Homo sapiens: one gene and its partner. The protein of the gene in region 2 purifies or fractionates together with the protein of the main gene of each other region. This does not show direct contact. Each region holds a gene or a part of one and is shown on either strand. Other genes may lie near its edges.

Evidence for each region. The genes of interacting proteins can lie anywhere in the genome.
Region 1: the proteins of LRRC55 (region 2) and MACO1 purify together in Homo sapiens (affinity purification with mass spectrometry; one large-scale study listed by BioGRID and IntAct). This does not show direct contact.

What each region holds. Positions count from the first base shown.
Region 1 is NC_000001.11:25,454,897-25,458,396, reverse strand, and holds part of MACO1 (macoilin), read right to left. Parts: intron 1,745-3,500; coding exon 1,566-1,744; intron 7-1,565; coding exon 1-6. UniProt on the Homo sapiens protein: Plays a role in the regulation of neuronal activity.
Region 2 is NC_000011.10:57,180,491-57,184,752, reverse strand, and holds the start of LRRC55 (leucine-rich repeat-containing protein 55 precursor), read right to left. Parts: upstream 2,801-4,262; 5' UTR 2,731-2,800; coding exon 2,070-2,730; intron 1-2,069.

The DNA.
Region 1 (3,500 bases), on a different chromosome or scaffold from region 2:
TGGCTGCTACAATACCAAAAACAAACCAACAAACAAAAAGCCCCCACCGGAATATTTAGTTGTTTAACAACACAGATTAATTCAACAAACTATTATCTACACTTAAGAAATTCACATTAGTTTGCACACTCATTATACGCTAATCAAGAAGCAAATCCTCATAGTTTACTAGAAGATGTAGGAAAAAATAGAAGAAAATCCAAATACATTTGAGAAACTCTACATTTAGAAAATCATCATCATTTATGAAAATGATGGCCACTAAAGGTCTAGTCTTGAAAACAAGATCAGGGTTTTATAATTAGGTCACACTTTGTGTATTAGTCAAATCAAACTCGCCTATCACTGAGGTGAGAGGACAAAGGCAGATCCTAAGAAGTCATATTTTTTTAAGTGCCTGGAGTAAACGAACTGTTAATAACTTTACTGAAAAGAAAGAGGTTAAATGAAACAAAAGAAGAGGAATAATTTTAGGATACAGGACATCTATCCTTTTTCTGGACTCTAGTGTTGAGGTAATAAGGAAGTCTGTATCATTTACCAGACCACTCAGAAAGAATTTTGTGTATTGGGTCTACACATTCCAATTTATTAAGGTCTACTTGAAGAGATATTTTTGCACCACATCACACAAAAAGAAAATTTTGAAATATATTAAATAAAAACATGACCTCAAACTTTCAACTTTCAAACCAATGGAAACTAGCTACTGCCAATTATCTATTTCTATTGGTCAAATGCCCATGAGAGAGATTCCATTAGAAATGGTTCAATTTAAAATCTGCATTACATTATATGAAGCATTTAGAACACGACCTATCCATCTTGGCTCTATTCAGAAGACATCTGGCTTCTGAAGTTCAATTCTACATGTCTACATCTCCATTGTGCTTATACTTTGGTTCTTGGCTTGCTTCAATTACCAGTTCACATAGTTCCATAGTATTTTGTTGCTGAGAATATATATTTTAAAATACGTAAAACAGGCTGGGCATAGTGGCTCATGCCTGTAATCCCTACACTTCAGAAGGTGGAGGTGGGAGGATTGCTTGAGATCAGGAGTTTGAGACTAGCCTGAACAACACAGTGAGACCTCATCTCTACAAAAAAATAATTAAAAAAAATTAGCCAGGCATGGTGGCACGTGCCCATGGTAGCAGCTGCTCAGGAGGCTGAGGAGGGAGGATTACTTTGCTCCCAGGAGTTTGAGGCTGCAGTGGTCCCTAACTGTTATCACTGCACTCCAGCTTAGGCAACAGAGTGAGACCCTCCCTGTCTCAAAAAACTAAATTTAAAAAAAAATCAGAATTAAAATATAAAAAAGATATAAATATATTTTAAAATAATAAAATAAACATATTTAAACACATAGTCTTCAGACAGTATGTAAAAAACTTCATTCACCATCTGTATTTCATTGACCAAATAAAACAATGACCCTGAGGAGGAACACCATTAGACAGAAAAAAACAAAATCCTAGCTACTTTTCCAGAAAAGAAAATTCTACCAAGAGACAAAATAATGACTAGCCTATTGAGCCAACAGCTTTAGGGTAAAGACCTACCTTCCTCGGCCTCTTTTTCTTGCTTCTGTAGCATCTGTTGCTCTGGAGGGAGAGCTTGTTGAAGAAGTTGCATGTAAAACTCGTTCTCTTTTTGTACTTCTTTTTGCTTCCTTAACCGCATTTTGTAGCTTACGTAACTTTTGAAGCCAAACCCCAAAGTTACCACAGGGTACCCAATACTAGAAAGAAGACAATCCAGCCAGTAATTGTAGGTTTAAAATGAACCACATGTGCCTCAAGCACATGAGAATACCTATGGCTTAAAAATTAAAAATAAATTCTAATTGATGATGGTAGTTGAGAAGAGCATTCACTAGACACACAAATAAATGTAATGTCTACTGTGGAAATCAGAAGCAACTGGCACACAGAACAAAACCCCCAGGAACAACAGGACTGCTAGACCGTAAGACGACACTTCCCATTAGACGTTGGCATTCTTCAAATTAATTCAAGGAGTCACCACAGTGACTGTCAGATACAGTGGCTAATAATGCCTTTGAAGAAATATTGAAGAAACTGCCTTATGCATTAGAACTTAGGCAGATACCTGTACCCTTTTTTTTTTTTTTTTGAAATGGAGTCTCGCTCTGTTGCCCAGGCTGGAGTGCAGTGGTGTGATCTCGGCTCACTGCAACCTCCGCCTCTCGGGTTCAAGTGATTCTCCTGCCTCAGCCTCCTGAGTAGCTGGGACTACAGGCCTGCATCACCATGCCCAGCTAATTTTTGTAATTTTAGTAGAGACAGGGTTTCACCATGTTGGCCAGGATGGTCTCGATCTCTCGACCTCGTGATCCACTCGCCTTGGCCTCCCAAAGTGCTGGGATTACAGGTGTGAGCCACCACGCCTGGCCTGTATGCTTTTAAAAACTAAAAGGGTAGAGACTTTACAGGTAGCCAAAAGTAAACATAAGTGTTAAAAAAAAAAATCACAAGGACATCATTTGATTTTCAATACTAGAAGGCAGGGTCAAATTCAGGTGACTAATTTAATCTTCTTGCTGCCTGAGGGGTACTGTCACCAGCTATTCCTTGAAGATTGGTTCACAAACACTCTGTCATATATAAATTCTGTCATACATAAATTCAAGAATCATTTAAATAAGTATCCGATATGATCAGTGCCAAGATTTGGTTTGTATCACCAAATTAAACCAGCTGTACTTAGAACTCTAATCTCTGGGATAGAAAGTTAAATATTTTCATTGAACTTACCAGCCTGCCTAACATCATTTCAAAGCCTCTGCAAACACTGTCAAGCCCATATAAGTTTCACTAACATGAAAATGTATCAATTTATAATTAGTCTAAATGTGGTCTCACTACAAACTTACGGTGACATGTTTTACTGACCAAGTTCATTTAATTTACTTGTTTGTAAAAAGACTAAAAATACTGGAAACAGTATTTTTTTAGTTGATTACTGTTTATTTTGGTTTCTGCCATAAATATTAGTAAAAATTGGTGTGTTTAGGAGAAACATACATTAGGTGGTAAGTTCCACAATAGATCTAAATAAGAACCAAGCTCATTTTTCAAAAATGTTTCATGGTTAAGATTAAATGAATAATATCTTAATATTCATTAACATAAAGAGAAATAATATTCATTCAAAAATTATTAATAATATTCTCTTACTTTTATAAATAGGCTAAGGAAATTCTAAATTATTTTAAGTTTCATGAATTAGCCATATATTTCATCAAGACCTTCTGGAATCATTACCTGATTATAATAAACATAGCTAACATTCATCAGACACCTATGTGCTTGGCATTAAGTTGAATACATGTATCACTTCAGTTCCTTTTTCCCATGACCCAGTGAGGCAGGTAAGAAAACCATGGCTTAGAGGCAGTGACAAGGCAACACAAGCTGTCAGAGGACAGAGCTGGGATTCACTCATCTGCCTGAAAAGGGGGGGCTCATGGTCTT
Region 2 (4,262 bases):
AGGCACCAGTCCTAAAGTCATGCTGTATCCCAGGGGCTTGCTTATTATGGCCCTCTTTGTTCAATTTTTCCAAAAACCATGGATAACAGTGGAGTTCCGCAAAGAAAAAGGGAGGAAGCAGCTGAAAAGGACCTAAAGGGAAGAGCATCACCTAGTTCTGCCTCCACTGGCAAGGTTTTGTCCCTAAGGAGAAGCACCCTGGTGCGTGTGGCCTGGTGTTAAGTGTGTTCTGTGGAGGAACAGGGAACCTGGCTTTCCAGCTGGGACTGCTTGCTTCCTCATCATGGGCCTGTGGACAGTCACTGTCCCCTTCTGGAGCTCAGGTTCCTCACCTGTACTGATGTATGTGTGAGCCTACACTGATGAAATCTTGGACCCCTCTCCTGCTCGCTGGGAGTCTGAGCTTCTTCAGAGCAGCAGGGACCTCAGAGATCACAGAAAAGGAGTCCCTGGGTGTAATGTAAGCTTAGTGCTTTGGGTGCCCTTTCTGTTATTAGTGCACAGGAGAGAGAGGGAAGGCGCGCCTGCCAAGTTTGAGCAAGTTGAGAGATTGCTCCAGGCATCCTCCCACTCCTGCCCTCCACCATCGCCCCATCCCAGTCCCCAGCTATTTTGATGCAAGAGAATTTCCTCCTACAGCTCTGTGGAAACACTGGAATCGTGACCCACAGCCCTCCCCAAACTATTTTGGTCTTGGGCTCCCCACTCAGTCCTCCTCTCCCTTTTACCACATTCAGCATTGCTTCTTCTCAACATGGGCTGAGCTCAGGTTCTGGGAAAGCCCCTTGGATAGGGCCTTCAGCTACTACTTCTGGGTTCTTGTGCCAAGTCTTGGTGTTGTCACACAGGAGAGCTGGTGGCTAGGGCCACAGCTGAACATTGCCTGCCTCTGGGTCAGGCTCAGATGCCACTGGGTTGGGATGCCCATCAAACCTATGTGATTTGGGCTTCTTCAGGCCCCAGTCCACCCTCCAGTTGGGATTGGCTGGTTGAGTTGCCGCATCTCAGTCTTCCTTTCAGCTCCCTACCCTGTGCCCAAAGTTTACACTGCTCAGGGCCTTGAGTTTGAGGAAAGCCAGGTTCTCGTAGCTGAGATCCAGGTCTTGGAGCTGCATGAGGTCCTGGAACTCTACTGCAGCCCTTTGGCCAGTCCAGGACTCAGGTTCTGACTCTTCCGGCAGGCCAGAACCTGACTCTTCAGGATATAGTCAGGGAGATTGCCAGGACTCAAATCCTGGCTTCAACACTTAGCAGCTGTGTAACTTCCAACAAGCTACTGAACCTCTCTGTGCCTCAGCTTCCTCCTCTGTAGAGTGGCAATCTCATTAGTGTTCTTCTGGGGATAGGAAGAGATAGGTAAAGCTGCTTAAGAGAGGGCCTGGTAAATAGCAAGTACTAAGGTCTCAAGTTCCTCCTGGAACATATTGGCTGTCACGCAACTTAAGCTATTGCAGCTCTGTTGAGATTGTGTTAGTCATTACTATTTATACGAGAGTTTCCAACACTTGGAATGCTAAAAAAGCATTCTGGTAGATTAGAACAGGGCTTAGAAGTCAGATAAATCTAGGTTTTATTCATGGTCCTGCCACTTTTTAATTTTTTAATTTGTATTTTTTTCATGGCCCTGCCACTTTCTAAGTGTGTGATTCCTGTCAAGCCTTTTTATTGTTCTAAATCTCAGTTTCTTCACCTGGAAAATGGGTATAATAAAAATGGGGGTCTCATGAGATAATGGATGCCAAGATCTTAGGTCATGGTGAAAGCTCAATAAAAACCACCAACCATAGGCTATTCTCACTTGTCTACTATCCGTCTGCCTCATTAGGTCATGAGCAGCGCAGTGGTGAGGGACATCTATTTAATGAATGAATGGGCCCTCGGTGCCTCACATGCACTGGAAGGATTCTACAAACAACCTGTTGGCCGAGCTGGTGTACAAAGAGGCAAGCCCACATTAGAAAATGCAGTAGGTGCTTTCTGGCTCTAAGTTCCCCCGCTTTCTTTGGAGCCTTTGCTTCCCATTGAGGCAAGCCCTCCCTGTTGACTGCCCCGTTCTGCCCCTCTATTACCTGCTGTACAGCGCTGGATCCGGTTTCGCAGCCACTTCAGCAGGGGTTCCATGGTGCAGCCACACACCCAGGGATTGCCACCGATCTGCAGGGTCACCAGCCCCGGTAGGCCCTCAAGAGCCTCCAGGCTGAGGAAGGCCAGGCCCCCATAACTGAGGTCCAGGTCTCGGAGCTGCATGAGGCCCTGAAAGGCCTGGGGATGCACCCTCCGCAGCCAGGGGTTGTGGCTCAGGTCGATGTGGACTAGCCCATGGGCCTCCTGGAACATGTCGGCTGGCACATGGCTGAAATTGTTGTAGCTCAGGTCCAAGTGTGCCAAGCGCTTGGCATGGAGGAAGAGGCCCCGGGGCAGCTCCATTAAGGAGTTGTTGTGCAAATCCAGCACCTGGAGCTCCATGTAGCATGTGAGGTAGCCAGGCGGCACTGCTGTGATGCGGTTGTGGGCCAGGCTGAGGTTTCGGGTGTCCATTGGCAGGTCTGGGGGCACGGAGAATAGCCGCTGGCTGCTACAATCCACCACCTGGTTACGGCATGTGCAAAGGACGGGGCAGCTGGTGCCGGCATCCGAGTGCATCAACCCGGCTGCCAAGAGGAGGGAGATCAGCAGCATTGCTGGGTGGGGTGGCCCGGGCCAGGGAAGCTGGGCCCAAGTGTCACCCATCTTAGGCAGCAGGCAACAGCAGTGCTGGAGGGAGCCCATGAGGACTGTGTCCATGGAATCGAGAGTCTGTGACACAGGAAGGCAGCTACATCTGGGGCCAGCGTCTGTGAAGGTGGGGCTTCTGAGCATGTGGTATCATGGCTAGGGACTTTCCCAGGAGCCTCTGAGCACCAGAGGGCTTCCTGAGATCCACGGGAGGTCCCCTTCCGGAGCCTAGGGGGCAAGACACCCAGTTGAGGTCCCCTAGGGTCTGGAATGATGATCAAAACCTGAGAAAGGGAGGGGACAAGAATGGGGCTAGGTCAGCTGCCAGCAAGTCCTGGAAGAGTTCCTGCAGATCTTTTGTGTCTCTCTCACCCATGCCTGCTGGATGTTTCCTCTTGGTGCTGTGTCTGGGAGGGAGGGGCTGAAGGAGATGAAACGTGCCCTTTAAAGATCCTTGGCACTTCTTCTGAGAAAACTTAAGTCCTGTCCCACGTCTGGGACTGATTAGGAAGCCGGGGCTGCACCTGGGTCTTCAGTGTTGAAGGTCTCAGAGGCCATTTGTCCTGGTGGCCTGGTGGGCTGGAGTCCAAGGGGGTCCCAGGGTGGGTGTTTTGGGAAAAGGGCCCGGGAGGAAGTGAGTCTCCATGGGCCTCCTAAAAGCCTGAGAGTCCTCAGCCTCAGTGGCTGCTGGAATCCCCAGGAAGCCTCTTTTTTTCCCAAAGAGAGGAGGACCCCAGGTGATGCCCACTGTCTGGGCCTCTGGGGCCAGAAGAAGTCATGAGTCCTGAAGGTGCAGGCTGAGTGTCAGCTGGCAGAGCTCTGGCATCTTCTCCAAGCCAGTGCCTTCCTCAGCGCAGTTCTGTGTTCAGCAGGTGGAGGCCAAATTCCCTCTGTCAACAAGGAAAGCACTCAGGCAGAGAAATCCTGTGCCCTTGACACTCCCTTGTCCCTTCACCTAGGACGCTTGGCTTATCTTTGTCTCTTTCCTTTGCTCCCCCAACCACAAAGTTCTCTGCTTACTGTCTGTCAGGTGTGGGCCATGGTAGGTTCAGACCCCAGGCTCACATTGCTGTTACCCACGAGCCCTCCCTGACCCAACCTGCAGCCATCCTCCTCTGGGTTCCTGTCTTGGGTTAGATGCATTTTCTTCTTCTTCTCATAACCCCACCCTCATTAGTACCAAACACGCCACCCTTGAACAACTCCCTAAGAAAAATCTGCATCCACACTCTGGGGGTTTGCACACCCCTTTCAAACACTCTAAGCACTCCTCTCTCTCTCACACGCACACACACACACTCACTCACACACCATTCTGTGACTCCCCCGTATTTTGCCCTGCCCCGTGCTCACGCCTCGCGGTTTTCGCTCCAGCTTCCTTCTGCACAGGCGATTCTGCAGACCCCTCCCCAGTCGACCCCCAGCATCTTTCGCCCCCCTCTCAGCGCACACCCTTCATCCCAGCATCCCTTTCCACACACTGCACTCTCCTCGCCGCCCCCAGCAGAGGGACCGAGAGTGATGCCACGCCCAGAGCCTCAGCCCTC